Regions from separate parts of the Homo sapiens genome. Here region 1 is linked to region 2. The links come from fine-mapping of genetic effects on gene expression. A gene starts in region 2. The other region holds a variant in brackets. All regions are shown on one strand. Distances are between the middles of the regions.

The links. PIP is the estimated chance that this variant, and not a neighbour inherited with it, causes the effect.
Region 1: its variant is fine-mapped to the expression of PRDM8-AS1 in ovary (GTEx, PIP 0.92).

What each region holds. Positions count from the first base shown.
Region 1 is chr4:80,167,274-80,176,470 of GRCh38, forward strand. No RefSeq gene overlaps it. Among named protein-coding and RNA genes, the nearest start is that of PRDM8-AS1, 25 kb to the right of the region's middle. The variant C/T (reference allele first, on the strand shown) is at 4,564.
Region 2 is chr4:80,192,267-80,201,463 of GRCh38, forward strand. It overlaps PRDM8-AS1 (PRDM8 antisense RNA 1), which reads right to left and starts at 5,078. Exons shown (of 6, transcript NR_183912.1): 1 at 4,862-5,078; 2 at 4,561-4,722; 3 at 1-46. It overlaps PRDM8 (PR/SET domain 8), which reads left to right and starts at 5,237. Exons shown (of 4, transcript NM_001099403.2): 1 at 5,237-5,497; 2 at 7,813-8,033; 3 at 9,024-9,197. The coding sequence starts at 7,815. RefSeq lists enhancers at 3,847-4,464, 4,465-5,080, 8,558-9,197.

The DNA.
Region 1 (9,197 bases), 25 kb before region 2:
TTCCATTGGTGTGTTTAGAACATTTTCATTTAATACAATTATTGAAAGTTTGCATTTAGAGCTACCATTTTATTATTTGTTTTTGTTCAGTGTATCTCATTTCTGTTCTCCTGTTTTCCCTTTCCTATTTTAGGTTAAGCATTTTTTAGTATTCTGGATTATATGGTAACTTTGTGTTTAACTTTTTGAGAAATTACCTACCATATCTTTGCCAACACTTATTATTATTTTTTTCTTACAACCATTCTAGTGTTGTGAAGTGGTAGCTAGTGATTTAGGTTTATCCATTGTTTTTTATTATATATTTTGTATAGCTTTTAAGCAATTGCACTAGGGCTTATAAGATAGCATGCTAGTTTTGCACAGTCTACGTAGAATAAGTATTTCACTACTTTAGGTAGACTATAGATACATTACCACCATATGTGTCTTTTTACCCTCCCTCCACATTAAAACCCCATCACAAAATATTATCTCACCTGCAATGTGTGCAGTTGTGATAAAATATACGTGCATAAAATTTACCATTTTAACACTTTTCCTTAAGTGTACAGCTCAGTGGCATTAACTACATTCACACTGTTGTGCAACCTTCACCACTATCCATCTCCAGAACTTTTTCGTTGTTTCAAACAGAAACTCTGTACCCACTAAATCATAACTCTCCTTTCCTCCTCACCCCACTGTTCTACTTTTGGCCTCTATGAATTTTACTAATCTAAATACTTCATACAAGTAGAATTATAAAATATTTGTCAGTTTGTACCTAGCTTATTTTCCTTAGTATAATGTTTTCAAGGTTCATTCTTGTTGTAGTGTGTGGCGGTATATCATTAGGTTTTATGGGTAAATATTATTCCATTGTATACATATAAGATATTCTGTTTATTCATTCATCAGTTGATGGATATTTGGGTTGTTTCCACTTTTTAGTTATGAATAGTGATCCTATGAGCATGGGCATACAAGTTTTTGTGCGAACATATCTTTTAAACTCCCTTGAATATGTTATCAAAGGATAGAATTTCTGGATCATATGATAACTTAACCTTCTGAAGAACTGTCACATCCTTGGCAACACTTGTTATTATCTGTCCTTTTTATTATAACCAATCTAGTATGTGTGAAATGATACCTCATTGTTGTTTTGATTTAAATTTCCCTCATTACTAATAATATTGAGCATCTTTTCAAGTGCCTATTAGTGATTTTTAAATCTTCTTTAGAGAAATGTCTATTTAAATCCTTTGCTCTTTCTTTAATTGCATCACTTTTTTATTATTGAGTAGCAAGGGCTCTTTCTATACTGTAGCTGTAAGACTCTTATCAAATATATGATTTGCAAGTTCTCAATGTTTTTGTTGCTTTTAATTTGAATATCATATTATAGAATTCTTTAGAAAATCCAAAATCATGAAGATTTTACCTCTATGTTTTCTTCTAAGAACATTCAGTTTTTAGGACTTCGATCCATTTTGAGTTAATTTTTGTGTATGGTATGAGGTAAGGGTTTAGCTTCATTCTTTTGCCTGTGGCTATCCAATTGTCCCAGCACAATTTGTGGGGATTATTCTTTCCCCATTAATGTTTTAGGACCCTGTGCACAAAATGAGTTGGCCATGGAGATATGGGTTTAGTTCTAGATTCTCAATTCTGTGCATTGTGTTATGGACTGAATTGTGTTTCCTGCCCCCCATATACATGTATTGAAGCCCTAACCCATCTGTATTTGGAGATACAGCCTTTAAGAAGGTAATGAAGATTAAATGAGGTCATAAAAGTAGGACCTGAACCCAATAGGACGGGTATCCTTAGAACAAGAGAAAGAAACACCACAAGTGCATGCTCACATAGGAGAAGACAGTGAAAAGGCAGCCATCTGCAACTCAGGAAGAAAGTTCATACCAGAAACCATTCCTGATGACACCTTGATCTTGGACTTTCAGCCTCAAGACCTGTGAGAGAATACATTTCTGTTGCTTAAGCCATCCAGTCTGTGATATTCTGCTATGGCACCTAAGCAAATAAATAAAAATGTTTGTCTTGTGCCAGTATCACTCTGTTATTATTACAATTGCTTTGTAGTAGGTTTTGAAACCAAGACATATAAGCTCTCCTTATTTATTATTTTCAGGTTTGTTTTGGTATTCTGAGTTCCTTGCAATTTCGCATTAAGTTTAGAGTCAGCCATCAATGTCAGCAAAGTCAGCTGGGTTTCCAATAAAAATTATGTTGAATCTGTAGATCAACATATTGCCATTTTAACAATATTAAGTCTTACTATCCATGACCATGGTATGTTTTTTCACTTATTTAATCTTCTGTAATTTCTTTTAACAATATTTTGTAGTATTCAGGGTATAAATTTTGCGTTTATTTTGTTAAATTTGCTCCTGTGGGTATTTTATTCTTTCTGATGCTAATATGAATGAAATTGTTTACTTAACTTATTTTCATATTGTTTATTGTAAGTGTATAGACATACAAATTATTCTTGCAGAGTGATTTTGTATCCTGCAAAACTGTTTAACTTAGTTATTAGTATAGCCACGCCAGCTTTCTTGTGGTTGTTGTTTGCTTGAATTTTTTTTTTTTTTTTTAGATAGGATCTCACTCAGTCACACAGTTTGGAGTGCAGTGGCACCATCTCAACTCACTGCAACCTCCACCTCCCAGGTTCAAGTGATTCTCATGCCCCAGCTCCCTAAATAGCTGAGACTGCAGGTGTGTGCCACGATGCCTGGCTAATTTTTGTACTTTTAGTACAGATGGGATTTCACCAAGTTGGTCAAGCTGGTGTCAAATTCCTGGCCTCAAGTGATCTGCCCACCTCAGCCTCCAAAGTGCTGGAATTACAGGCATGAGCCACTGCACCTGGTCTTTGATATTTTTAAATCCTTTTATTTTCAATCTATTTATGTCTTTGAATATAAAGTTTATCCTGAAGACAACATATAGTTAAAGCATGTTTTTAAATCAAGTCTGATAATCTCTGCTTTTTGATTTAATTGTTTAATTTACCCTGATAAGAAGTTTCTGTTGCATGTATTTCATCCAGTATACAATTTATACTTTTCCATTCTTTTGCATGCTCATAATTTGTTGTTAGAAACTGGACATTTTAGATAATATATCTTAGTAACTCTGGAAACTGGTACCCCGCCCCCCTCTAGGATTGCGATTATTATTTTCTTGTTTATTTGTTTAGTGAGTGCTGAGTTATTTTAGTTGAAGTCTATTCCCTGGCTTCCATTCCCTCACTTTTCAACATACACATCATGGTAAGCCTCTGATGCTCTCTGATCAGTGAGGCACAGTTCTGGGTATATCTAACAATTATCCTGGGATAGTAGTGGTACTGGTAAGATTCTCTCCCACCCTTTCGCTGATTACACCTAGCTGTTAAACTCTACTAATTTCTGGCCTATTGCTTAATTGTTTCCAACAGTGCCCTGGAACATAATTTTTTCTTTACAAATAAATCCAATTGGCCGGGCATGGTGGCTCATGCCTGTAATCCCAGCACTTTGGGAGGCCAAGGCGGGAGGATCATCTGAGGTCAGGAGTTTGGGACGAGCCTGGCCAACACGGTGAAACCCCGTCTCTACTAAAAATACAAAAATTAGCTGGGCATGGTGGCAGGTGCCTGTAATCCCAGCTACTCAGGAGGCTGAGGCAGGAGAATCGCTTGAACCCATGAGGCAGAGGTTGCAGTGAGCTGAGATTGTGCCATTGCACTCCAGCCTGGGAGACACAGTGAGACTCTGTCTCAAAAAAAAAAAAAAAAAAAAGATATACAAATAAATCTAATAATATTGTGACACTTTATATGGGAAAGTTTCTGAGATCAGTGTTTGCTATTTGTATTAACTCCAAGAGAGCTCCTGTCAGCTATCTTATTTCCCAGTTCTCTCTTACAAACTAGCTGGCCTACAGTCTAGGCTATATCTTCATTTGGTCCCAAAATTTCCTCTCAATTGCTTTTCACCACAACTTCTACTGTTCTTGAGAGTGCCCTTAAGTTTAAAATTATCTACACTTTGTTTGGAATAAAGTAAGATCCCTTGGGAAGAGATAAAGAGTTGCATGCTTTATGGCCTGATTCTCTCCCTAGGCAAAATTTCTGAGCTAGAGCACGGAGTTGGGGGTGGAAACAATGACAAGCTTCTCTCTGAGTAATACCCTGGCTCTAATTGCTGAATGCTTGGTGGATGGGGTGAGAGAGGAGTTTGCAGGTCTTTCAGCTTGCCACTCATGGTGTGGAAACTTTACTTCAAAGGCCAAGGAAAAGGCTCCCAAGGCTCCAGTATTCCTGTTAACAGCCCAATTGGTTCATCTTACCCACTGCCCAGAAAAGCCAATTCCCTGAAAATAGCAGATACTGCAGCAAAGAAAGAGTTTAAGTATTGAAAGCTCGGAGGCTAAGGATAATTTGGCAGGCAGGGGGTTAGGGACTAGGTCCTGCTGATTGGTTCAGGATGAAATCATAGGTGTATCCAAAATGTTCTTCATGTGCTGAGTCAGTTTCAGGGTAGGGGGTCACAGGATTGGTTAAGTCAGTTC[C/T]CTGGTATGAGTCACAGATCCAGGTGGCATCAACTGGTCAGCCAAAGTGCAAAAGTCTGAAAAATACCTCAAAGACCAATATTGGGTTTTGACAATACCGTTGGTATCTATAAGAGCAATTAAAGAACTTACAAATCTTGTCATCTTCGGAACTGTGGCTGGTTATCATTTAACTACATCTACATCTTACCAGAATTCATTCCCCACTCATAATCCTAAGCTTTTGGCCTTTCATTAGTCCTACAAAGGTGGTTTCAGTCCCCAGAGGGGGTCAGTTTTTGGGGGAGACTATTATCCTTTATTTAAAGTTAAACTATAAGCTAAATTCCTTCCACAATTAGCTTCGCCTACACCCAGGAATGAGCAAACACAGTTAGCTTGTTAAGTTAGAAGTATGGCAGTGTCAGCTAGGTTACATTTCTCTCACTGTCATAATTTTTGCAAAGGTAGTTTCATTCTCAATGCACCACACCCAAGGTAGAACTTCCTTTTTACAAGAAAGTGTTGGGTGGGAGAAGGAAGCTTCCTCCTCCCAGTTGTATTCACCTAAGACTTAGCCTTAGCAACAGACAGCTACGGGCAGGACCAAAAAAGCTCAAGTTATGTCCTATTGCAATGAAAGCCCTGCAGCTGACACCTAAGGAATATAAAGAGTCATATTCTTGGCTGCAGCGTCTGGAGTAGAGTCTCTGCCTCACTGAGCTGGGAGGGGCAAGGAAAGTAGTAGTTTCAGTTCAAATGTCACAGACTCACCTCTCTTGACAGATATTCATAATTTCCTCTAATAGGTATTTCTTTATTTACCATTTGCCCTTAGGACCATTTCCAGAGAATTTAAGTGGTTGTTTCTTTACACACAATTTTCACCAGTTTCACTGAGGAGTGGCTCAGCAGAGTTTCCCACACTGCCATTCTAGAAGTCAATCTATTTCACTTGTATTTATTGTTCAGCTATATATGTTACTTACAAGACTCTTCTTTGCTTTCCACTCCTAATTTTCTGTTTTCCTATAGCTAACTCTGTCTCTCTCCTTTGAAACACTGACTTCCAACTTTATATCAGTCCTCTCAAGTTTTCAAACTCTTAGTTTCTATGAGATTTAGAAATCGGGCTTTTGTTTGTGCTGATGTTTACAGTGAATATTCAAGACTCTGATATTGGCTATAATTTTTTTTTAGAGTTAAAGTCTTCCTTTGTTGCTCAGGCTGGATTGCAGTGGCACAATTTTAACTTACTGTGGCCTTGAACTCCCAGGCTCATGCAATTCTCCCACCTCAGCTTCCTCAGTAGCTGGGACTACAGGAACGTGCCACCACAATCAGATAATTTGATTTATTTATTTATTGCAGAGACAGAATATTGCTATGTTGCCCAACCTGATCCTGAGCTCTTGGTCGCAAGTTATCCTCCCAGCTCAGTCTCCTAAAGCACTGAGATTGCAGGCATGAGCCATGACAACCGGCCTTGAGTATAATTTTAATCTAAGGCTTCAGGAAAGAGAGCATGCTTCTCCACCACTGTCCTCTTCCATTTTTTTGTCTGTGGGTTAGTTCAGGTTCAGGAGGAAGAGACAGGGATGGCAAAGTTGGAAAGAGAAAATGTTACTTCATTCTAAAATCTACACAGTTTGTGAATTCAAGGGAAGCCATTAGTAGGAGTTCCTATTGCTGTGCAGCTGATTTGTTTTGAGGTAGTCACCCTTTGTTGAAGCCTGGCTGGCTTCCTTGAAAACAATCAGCAAGTGACTAACCAGGCATAGTAAGACTGGTGCTGACACAGGAAACCACCAAATGATGAGAGACCTGGGGATGCCCAAAGGAAGTCAATAAAAGCATACTCTCAAATTCTTCCAGATTTTGGCTTGCAAAGCCTCCCAAGACTTCTGGAAATCCTTCCTAAATGCTACTAGGAATGTTCCAGCCAAAGGGCTCTGAGAAATGATTCTTTAAAATCTTGGATGCTTAAGTTTACAAAACCCAGTAAGTTTTTACTTCCAGTTGAAACTGTGCATGAAAAAGATGTTTTCAGAAAGAGTTCTCAGATAATTCTATTTGTGAATAATAGTAGTAATGTAATGGTTATTCTCCATTTGTCTCTCCAAAATCCATTCTCTGTCCTCTCCTGGCTCTATATTGCCAGAGGCTGACTCATGCAGATTCGTTAGCATGCTCCAGAACCTTGCTGGTTAGTTAGCTTCCGGTTGAGTTAGGCCATTGGAAGGCATTAACATGAAATTGGAGCATGTGAGAAAAGAAAAGATGAGTTATTTCTTCCCTGTCCTCTCCTTGCTACACCATTGTCTCTGTGTCAGTAGCTGTTTCTGTAGGTCTCACACTGGGCCCTTCTTCCAAGGTTCTGGTCCTTAGCAGACTGTAGAAACACTAATTCCTCTCCTAAAATCTTCTTGTTATGCTGGTTTCTGTGTCCCTCACTCTCTCGTTTGTTCTCATCACCTGGTCCACATCTTTGTAGCACTCCCTTACCTGAGGATGGGGCAATTATTTCCAAGACCACCAGTGGATGGCTAAAATCACAGATAATACCAAATGCTGTATATACTATGTTTTCTCTGATACATACATACCTCTGAAAATAATTGATTTATAAATTAGACACTGCAAGAGATGAACAATAAGATAAAATAGAACACATATAACAATATACTGTGCACTCCCCTATATATACACATGTACATATATTATATATATACATATAAAGGGGAATTTGTTAAGTATTAACTTACACAATCACAAGGTGTCACAATAGGCTGTCTGCAAGCTGAGGAGCCAGGAGAGCTAGTCCAAGTCCCAAAACTGAAGAATTTTGAGTCTGATGATAGAGGGCAGGAACCATCCAGCATGGGAGAAAGATGTAGGCTGGGAGGCTGGGCCAGTCTCTCCTTTTCACATTTTTCTGCTTCCTTTATATTTGCTGGCAGCTGATTAGATTGTGCCCACCAGATTAAGGGTGGATCTGCTTTCCCCAGCCCACTGACTCAAATGTTAATCTCTACTGGCAACACCCTCACAGACACACCCAGGATCAATACTTTGTATCCTTCAATCCAGTCAAGTTGACACTCAGTATTAACTATCACAACTCCACCCCTTGTCAACTTGAACCCATATATATCTCCTGAGATCATACATAATCTTCAAATAAAGACAATAATAAGGTCATAATTACACTTAAAATAATACAACTATCTTTCGTACAACCGGAAATGCACCAATACCCCCATCCAAATACTATTACATAAAGTTAACAATACTTAAATGCTGATATGAAGTCAATTAATCTTATGTCACATGATAAAGGAAAAGGAAATAAAATGAGGATAATTTCTCAGTACAAGTGTATACATGCACAAACATGTTTTTAACAAAAGAAGGAGGAAATACTCATGACAGTTACAGTCCTCATTTCTGCAGCTGGTCAAGTGGTCATAGCTGGTATTTATGACTACCTTCTCCTACTGCCCATTCTGTATTCCCTTTACCTTCAGCAAGCACCTCAGCAGGTCATGTTTTTTTTCCTGGTGGAGTGACCCAAACCTTCCTTCCTGAGGGGTCTGGACCATTTGTAGTTCTGCCTGGATTGGGCTGTTGTACTTTCCCATTGACCTTAATCACAGGGCATGGTAATACTAAGAGACACCCTAATGGATCACCTGTATTCCGTGCATATTCTTTCCTTACCTCCGTTGTGGAGTAGTAGACTGATTTCATCTTGATAGTCTGGATCAATAACCCCAGCCAACACTATAACTCCCTTCTTAGTCTGTTGACTTAAAGGTAAGAGGACCCCAAAGTGTTCAGATGGAAATCTTAACTTCTAGTTTAATGGAATTGTTGTTGTGTCTCCTGGTGGCAGCGTTCCTCCCTCTGGAACTAAGACCTTTAGGTCTGCAGAACGTGAGGTTATGGGAACAGGAAGCAAAACTTTTGCTAGTGGATAACTAGAGGTGATGGTGAGTGGTGCCACTTCCACTTCCAGCTCTTGATTCCTGGACCTGTGAATCCTGGCTATGGGGGTAACAGAACCATATATTGGACACTGATTCAGAGCATACATGGCCTTCTAGAGAACTTTGCCCTAGCCCTGCAAAGTATTGTCACCTAGTTGGCATTGTAATTGTGACTTCAAAAGGCCATTCTAATATTCTATCAATCCAGCTGCTTCAGGATGTTGAGTAGCATGCTAAGTCCAGTGAATTCCATGAGCATGAGCCCACTGTCACACTTCTTTAGCTGTAAAGTGAGTGCCTTGGTCAGAGGCAATGCTGTGTGGCATATTGTGATGGTGGATAAGGCATTCAGTTAGTCCACAGATGGTAGTCTTGGCAGAAGCATTGCATGCAGTATAGGCAAACCCATATCCAGACTAAGTGTCTATTCCAGTGAGGACAAACCTCTGCTCTTTCTATGATGGAAGAGGTACAATATAATCAACCTGCCACCAGGTAGCTGGCTGATCACCCTGAGGAATGGAGCCATATTGAGAGCTCAGTGTTGGTCTCTGCTGCTGGTCAATTGGGCACTCAGCAGTGGCCACAGCCAGGTCAGCCTTGGTGAGTGGAAGTCCATGTTGCTGAGCCCATGTGTAACCTCCATCCCTGCCACCATGGAAACTT
Region 2 (9,197 bases):
TGTGTCTATCGTTGCCTCTTTATTTAACTCAGGAATTACAATCCACCTAAAACAGAGAAGAAAAGGGTGGCACACAGGTACTGAATTGGGATGATGTCCATTCTCCTGGCTGTGTGAAGAAATTTGATGTAAAGCCTCTCAATGTTGTCACATTCCCAAGGCCTAGAGTTAGACTTCTCAAAATTTCATTTGAGACTGCTGGACACCAATTTGAGACTGCTAGACATCCCCTGATCTGCAGTCTGCCTAAAAATCCTGACCCAGAGGGTAAGGAGGTTCAGAGTGACTGATGGAGAACTGGCTACAACCAGTCAACCCCCTTCACACTGAGATGCGTTCAAAGGGTGTGGTGTCTGAGTCTAGGAAGGACTTTGGAACCTACAGATTTGACAAAAATCCAAGCCTTTTCTTGCCAGATCTTTACACACTCATCTGGGGAAGAGTATAACATTTGGGAGAACCCAGGGGGTTGAAATAGTGGATATTGGATTTGGTTCAGAGGTCACACTCACACAGATGAGTATGGGGCACTGATTTCATATCTGTTGGTAGTTGTGCACAATGTCACTTCGGTTTGCTAGCCCTTCTAAAAGTCATACTCAGAGGCCATTAAGCCAGTTCACTACAACCCAGATCCAGGAGAGGAAGATAATAACATACAGCTTTCAAAGACTATCCCATTCTCAGCTGAACTCCAACACAAGTGTAAGTAAAACTTGGGAATGGCTAAGAGAGAAAGTTTTAAACTTGAGAAAGGTAGATTATCATTGTAATGATAATGGTGGTAGTAGTAGCTGCAGGAGCAGCAGGATTAAAAGCAGGATCATTTACGAGGAAAAGCCCAAGAGAGAAAAGTATGAGTCAGAAGTAATGATCCCTACAGTTGGGAGCCTGAAGTCCTTCCTCACAGGCTACAAAATTACCCAACCCTGAGTCTCTGGCTTTCCCAGGGCCAGCCTGGAAAACATTTGCTCATGTAATACCCAGTGAGCCAACTACAATACTTAGGGTGAGGAACAGACCTAAACTGAGTTTGCAATGTATACTTATAAAAAACGAGTAGCCCTTCCCACACCCCACCCCCTCACATCATCCTTTACCCAACTCAGCAAGCATGGCTCTTCTCGACTCACCAAAATGTAAAACAAACAAACAAACCCCTCTGGGTCTTTTTAAAAACCCACCATGTATCTTTCTCTTGATAAAGGCAAAGTGGTAGAAAATGAGTTAACAACCCTCTGAACAACATTTTTGGCACAGGCCTGGTGTTTTTCTTAATTGACCAGCCCATCATTTCTGTTTCTCTTTCATGTACAAGTAGTCAGTAAAGTTTATCCCTTAAAAAGTTCCTTATTCTGAATGGTGAGGCTAGGTAATACAATACTCCTCCTTGAAGATCTATTCTCTTCCTCCCTCAACCCTCACAGCCCCTTCCAGAGACCTCCCTGTGGGAAATTAATAAGCTTAGGAAGGAGCTGCCACTGTCTGCTCCATTGGCATCCTCTTATCTTCCAGTGTGTGGGTTTTTTCCCCCCCTTTCACCATGAATTGCCATACTCTTTTGACAATCAAGCCTTTGCTGGCATAGTGCTTTGGCAATAGAGTTAGAGGTGGGTAAGCCAGGACCTAGAAAGATATAGAAAAAGAAAATCAGTGTGTTTTCATTCTCATGGGATAATAATCTTTACGTGAATTATTCTTGGAGATGTTACCTGCCTCTTATCACAGAAGTTGAAATATTTTGGGCTCCATTTTTGAACCCTGGGAAGAGAAAGAGTGTTCCCATTCTAATACTCCCTAAGAATTAAAATTCCCTTTCTTACCCTTTCTCCACCCTCTCACTTAGGTCATAAAAGCCACCTGGGGTGTCATTTATCAACCTCTCTCCAGCCCACTCTTCCAAAATAACACTACAGTTTCCTACATGTGTATTTTTGCCAGGACTCCAAAGAGCCTTGCTAAAGTGGAACAAGGTGAGCATACCCACTCTTCATTGTCATTCTTCTAATTACTTAATTGGAAATAAAATCCTAGGGAAGAGAGCTCCAAATATATGCATAAACCCATTGTTCCATATGAATTACATAAAACTATTGACTAGGTACACTTTTATAGTACTGTCTGAGGCTGAATAAATGCCTCAACCCTTCATTTAGTATCAGTGAATTCCAGTAAGTATTAATGCAGAGTGATTTCAAAGTAGTTTATGTACCATTTTAGCCCATAAATTTCTACAGAAATAAAAATAATTTGTAGATTTTCTTTATCCCCTATTAATTATTGTCATTTAGGACATTTATATTACCAAGCAAAATGTGTACCACTTAAATTACTAGAAAACTCTTCAAGTAAGAATTTCGACTTAATCTTACTTATATTGTTTTGTTATGTCAGTTATTTAACTCATAATAAAAAGGGTAGGTCAGATTCATAAAATGTGAGAAATTCTTATATTTAAGGATCTCTACCTGAAAGCAGTAGGAAAAAAATTAATTAGAGGGCAAAAAAGTGAAACTGAAATGAAGCATCTGTTGGCCAGATTCTCAATAAATTGCTCCCTTCTCAGATGTATAAAATTGTCGCTGTTTTCTAGCTTAAGACATAAAAAGGTCAAGCTGTTCCACCCTCAACTTAAGTACCAAAAACATTATTTTATACAAACTGGAGTCAAGGTTTTAGTACCTCAAAAGAAATATAGTTTAAATGGTCTCTGTATTTAATAAGAGAAAGGCCAGGCACAAGAAAAATGCCTTCCATTTAGAGTTTATTTTCTAAATGTCCACATTCTGGAGTAGAGGCTTACATATTTACAATATGTAAGATAATTTTTTAATGGTTTGCATGGACAGATGACTTTTCCTGAAAGATAAAATTCCAATTCTCTAAATAACAGCAAAAGAAAGCATTAAGGAGTGTTCTGTTAGACAGATTAATGAAATTATGTTCTTAAACACTGCTCCTCACACACCATATTGCATTTATCAGTCTAGTTTCTAAGGGACCACATGACTCTCTTATGGCTACTTTTCTTTCTTAACTTGAAGTTGTTTACACCCGTGCCTCTTCTGCTCTTTATTTTTCTTCTTTCTTCTACTCTGAATTAACTTAAGTTTCTGGCCACTATTCTTCAAACCTGAGGTTTATTTTCCAGATGTTTGAGACATTATTTTCACATTTCTAATGCTTCCACCCATTCTTTAAAGAAGTATTAGGGGACCATGTGTCCATACTTTGTGTGTGTGTGTGTGTGTGTGTTTGTGTGTGTGTAGAGAGAGAGAGAGACTGAGAAGTGAATCTAGTATTCAATGGAGCAATCAGTCAGAAGACAATTGGTAGCTCAGTATAGCTGCAGATTCTTACATACAGGCATGTGAGAGAGCCCTCATTGCACTGAGCCTTGGTCATTAGGAGCCAACCTTAGCCGAAGTAGATAAAATTGCACATAGCCAAAGTACATAAAACTGCACTTCAAGAAGCTTTCTTTGAAAAGTCAGTAGCTAACCTGAAAACTAAGGGATTCCCCATTTTCTCTGAATATATGGGGATTTTGCAGCCCTTCCTTCTGTGAATTTCAGCTTAATTCTAGGCAGCAATTCGGAATTTGCCTGGGGTACTAACCAGAAAAGAGAAGGAAATACACACACACACACACACACACACACAGAGAGAGAGAGAGAGAGAGAGAGAGAGAGAACAAGGAAGAACATGAACTTCATGGGAAAGTCCTTGCACTTGTTTCTCCTCAGCAAAATCCTCCCCTGGCCTCCTGGGACTGCAGTCACCAGGCTGTCAAAGCCTCAATACCCCACTGAGTTCCAGAGAAGGGTCTCAAAGCTGGGAGAGGATCAAACTAACATGGTAAGCTGCTCTTTGCCAACTCCCCAAATACATTATTTCAACACTAGGAAAAACAACAACGAGGCTGTCTCCTTACGTTGTGGTTCTGCCTCCTCCACTTTAGCTAGCTACACAATCCGATTTATCCTAATGCTGACAGATTGCCCACTTCAAAGTAGTGGTGGTGTGTGTGGGGCTGAAGGAGTTGAGAAACTGTCTATACCACTCAAAGGCCTTTCTTCCTTTAGGAGTAGAGAATTGAACTGTGAAAAAGAAGCCCGAGATTCCCCAGCGACGTGGTGTTGCAGCCCCGTTGAAGGAGTCAACTTGCAGGCTGTTAAAGACCTCAAGTCATTAGCATCAGCTGCTGCACTAAAGGGGCAAGTCAGCGCCTCTAAGTGGCTTAGCGCACAAACGAGGCTCCCGAGACGGCCTCGGCAACTCCATCCCCTCCTCCACCACCCGCTGGATGTGAAAAGCTTTCCGGAGCCCATCTTGGTAATCATTTTTATTTTTAATCACCCTTGCCCCCCAACCCCAAGACCTCAGAGTGCCAACAGTACCCATTATAGACTCCCTCTGGGGCTGCGCAGAACGCACCAAGCAGAGGGGGGGAAAAACCCCACGAAAACAAAAACAAACAAAAAAAAAACAGGAACTGTTTGAGTCCAGTAACCTGCGCTCTTCCCACCAACCTCCCACACCCCACCTCCGCCCACGTACCCGTGTCCTGGGACTAGGAGGTACCGTTATGTCCCCTTCCGAGGTCTGGTGACATTCTCACTCCAACCTCATCTCCCAAGCCACGGGAAGGCTGAGCCAAGTTCTCACCAAAGCGCATCCTTTCTGAATTTTGCAGGGGGAAGCTTGGTAGTGTTGGCGCTCCTGAAGAGAGACGACGCCCGTTTATCACCCCCAGGCAACTAGCTGCGCAAATCAGCGGTGGCTCCAGGGCTAGAGAATCCCTGGAGCTAACCGCACCCCTCTCCCTTTCACGGAACGCGGACTCCGGGGAAATACGCACGGGGTCCGCACGCGCTGGGTGTCCAGCTCTCTGTCACAGCTTCTCCAAGTGCCTAGTGAAACGGGGAAAGGCCCTCTCCAATCATTTTGGTACCTTCCTTTCCAATCCTGAAACGATTTTCCCCTCCTAGCAGTCCCAGAGGGCCCGAGCTTTAGGAGGAGGCGGGCCGGGACGCTCTCTGAGAGGCGTTGCCACCCGGGGTAGGCGCTCAGGATCTGCGGGGCGCGGGCAGGCCGGGGGAAAAAGCTGCGAGGCAGGCGGCGCCGGAGGGAGCGCCTGGCCCAGCAAAGAGTTAAAGGGAGGGGACGTGGGCTGTCACGCGTCATTGGGCAGATTATGTGCAGCAAACAAAAAGTGTGTGTCTGCGTGCCAGTCAGTCACTGCATCGGGTCCATCTGTACAACTCTCTCCGTTTCTCCGTCTCTCTCCCTCCCTCCCTCCCTCCACCCCCCCAATCTTTTTCTCCCCATCTCTCCATCTCTCTCTTATCTCTTCAGGAAGAGCCTAAAAGGCGGCAACACCAACACCTCTTGACATGGAAATACACTGATACAATAGGCAAAAGGAAACACTCGATTGCATCTTCCCGGTTCCAGGTGGCCTTATTTGGGAGATTCTATACTGACCTTATTCCTGGTAAGTCTATTTGCATTGATGTGGGAGGGGGATGGGAGGAAGACAGTTTGGTGGAAAGAGTAGAACATTTTGTCTTCCGTCTCCTTATTATCCAGAAGAGAGAGAAAAATAATTCTTGAGGGGCTGTCTACTGCCAGTAATATTGTACAAAAGGAGGAGCGGGTGGTGAGCACTTTGCCGGAGAAGCCGGAGACTGGGGAGCGCGCGGCCGCCAGACAATGCCTGCCTAGAGGGACGGGCCAGTGGCGGGCAGCAGCGACCGGCTTTCAGAAAGCCCCGCCGGCTCTGGGGTATATTCCCAGGGCAGGCGGATAAGAACCTGGGCCTAGAGCGGGGCACGGAGCTGTGAAACGTTGCGTGGCAAAGGCGACCGCACGCGGGCGGGCGCTCCTAGGCTCTTGCCCAGCGGTTATTGTGATGGGCTTGAGGCTCGTGGCGCCTGGCGCTGCGACTCCGACCGCTATTAGCGCGGCGTAGTGAGGACCTTTTTGCCGTATTGTTAGGTAGAACTGCATTTTAATGACTGTGTCCCTGCTGTTGCCCGAAGTGACGGGGCGACCTCCCGGCACAATGAAATGCTTGTGTGAAAGAGATTTTTAAAAGGAAGAGAGAAATTGGGGAATAAAACGCTGAATTGAAGGAAATTGAAAAGAGGAGAATAGGATTCCGTTGAAAAGGAGATAAGAGGTTATGGGGTTTTTAAAATGTATTTTAATTTGAAATGAAAAAATCAGGATGTCTACCTTGTATGGGGTAAAAATGACCAGGGATAGATGATGCAGAATAAAAAAGTTTCTACTTTATGGATATTTTCCCTTATTTCTGCTGTCTGGGAGATACAGCCCAACACTTGACATTTGGGGGATGCAAGAGGATGAATGGAAAATGAGGCTAACCAAAGTTTTAGGCTATGTTAGCTGGAATGGGGGGAAAAAAGCACACCTTGTAATCACACGTGTAAGGTTAACTGGTTAATATAAATTAAAATAAAAATAGATGTCACTGACATTATTCCATAATGAACAGCTTTGCAGGAAAAGAATTAGATCTACTCTTTCCTGCTACTTTAATTATATAAAACATACATAAATAATTGCCAACAGTGACATTATTAGGGAACAACAAACTTGGAGGAATATTTTGATTAGTCTGAAATACTAAGCAATGCAGCTAGTTCAAAGCTAGTTTAAAAATTTAAATACCTGGGTTTTTTTGGGTTTTTTTTTTTTTGTTTTTTTTTTTTTTTTTTTTTTTTAGTGATAAGTCTTGTATGGGGTGTCCAGAGGAAGGAAAATGTCCCTTTATGACACCTTAATAAAGGGCATTGGGGCATTACTTTCTAAATTGCTGCGGATTAAACAGCTGGGGAGCCCACTGAGGAGTGCTCAAGCAGGGCTGCCCCCTCTTGCCCAAAAAGGGTCATATGGGGTAGGGGGAGTGAAAATTTACCAGTCATTACACACAGTATTTCAGACTGGGGACACTTTAGGCCTGTCCTGTACCTGCTCACTTCATGAGCCACATGTGACTCAATCCACCCCCTTGTATAACAAGGTAACCGGGATTCACTCTCATCCATAAATAAGCACGTCCAGAAAAAAAAATTACCTCTGCTTGCTGCTTTTAATTAAAGCCTCAGAGGAACAGTGTTGGATTATGGTAATGAGCAGACATACGTCCCTTCTTGTAGGCTGCAGAGAAAGGTTAGCTGACACAGAATTAGTGGCCCTGACATTCCACTTGAAATCCATTCGCCATGCTCCGCTGTCTCCGCCTGCTCACTAACGCTGTTCCCCTCCTTGGAAGAAAAGAAAAAAATCAGCTCCCGGGCACCCAGTTCAATACATAGGCAGACAGGCACTTTCCCCCAAGGGTTAGAAGTTTCTTTCAGTAAGGGAAGTCTATAGGCTGGTTTAAAAAATTATATATATGTATATATATATATATGTGTGTGTGTGTGTGTGTGTGTGTGTGTACATATATATATAATTCTGCCTGGAACTTCACCTCTAAAACCTACCCAATCCAACATCAAGGTAATGCAAAAATTATCTAGTCTTTCCTAGCCCTTTCTTTTCTTTCTCCCAAGCAGTCAGCTCCAGATCTCCCACTATTCTAATTATTTTAACAAGTATCCCTTAGTTTTCATCTTTAAAATATGCCATGTTTATCTGCTTTAATTTTGAAATAAGAGCTATGCAAAAATCAGGCATGTGCAAGGAAAATCTACCTAGTATTTGGACAGTTCTGCTTGGGTTAATGGCGTTAAAAGCAGTAACATAACTCACTTTCTTGTGCTGTGTGTCTATCTCCAGTGATGGAGGATACTGGCATCCAGCGAGGCATCTGGGATGGAGATGCCAAGGCTGTCCAACAATGTCTGACAGATATTTTTACCAGCGTTTACACCACCTGCGACATCCCTGAGAATGCTATATTTGGTCCCTGTGTCCTGAGCCATACTTCCCTATATGACAGCATAGCTTTCATAGCTCTCAAGTCTACTGACAAGAGAACAGTACCGTATATCTTTCGGGTAAGTCTCCACTGTAGCTGTGTAGGTGTATGAGGGTAATGTCCTGTTGGAAATGGACTAAAAATAATTATAATGACAAGTGGAGATAGGTTTTGCCTGTGGAAAAATGCAATAATGCAAGCAATCCCATTTCACACATCAAAAATTAGAAAAGGAAAATTAAACTCAAATTATTGTCAACTGATTTTTTGGAATAAATGACAAAATTTGATTTGGAATGTTAGAAATATCTAAATCAGTGCTTCAGTTCTGGATTATCCTGGTGATGAACACGACTTCCTAAACTCTGGGAGATTTCACTGGGGTGGAGGCTATTTGCATACTAACTAGTTTCTGCAAGTTCTTTGACAAGTATTGGGTACATCTGCCTTCCATTTGAGGAGGCTTCTTCATCCCCTAAAGATTAGTTTCTTTGGTAATATTAGCTAGTGCCCAGAGTTTGTATTTAAATAAAAATGTTTATGGTTTTGACAGTAAAGCATCATCAAATCCATATGTCTGAATTGGAAGATTCAGACCTCTCATTTCCTATTCTTCTTTACAAAGAAAATCTATTAATTGTTCTAGCCAAGATTAGGAACATGATTGCCATAGCATAATTTCTAAGATCTAAGCTTGCTTTATTTCTGAAACAAACAAAATTCTCCATACCTTTGTAATGTGGAATAACTTAGAAGTAAACTCTCAAGGGGTTAACACTAAATTATAAGAAGAAATTTCCTCATTTAGTATTCAACCAATATATAAAAACGGTGACTTAAATAAACTATATGATTGATGCAGTGTTTCAAAGAATGGTTATCTTGCCTAATGGTTACAAACATGAGGACAGGTCCCAGCTTGGGCCAAACTTTTGGAAGCGTGGTCTCAGACAATTTTTGGAAAAGACTAACATAGAAGAAATGGTCTTGATTCTTCTGATTTCATTCCCTCATGAGGGTCCCTCTCCCCCTCTCCTTCTTGTCTTCTTTCATTTATTTCAAACCGCAGGTAGACACCTCAGCAGCAAATGGTTCCTCAGAAGGTCTCATGTGGCTGCGGTTGGTCCAATCGGCCAGAGATAAGGAAGAGCAGAACCTTGAAGCCTACATAAAAAACGGACAGCTGTTCTACCGCTCTCTCCGCAGGATTGCCAAAGACGAGGAGTTACTAGTTTGGTACGGG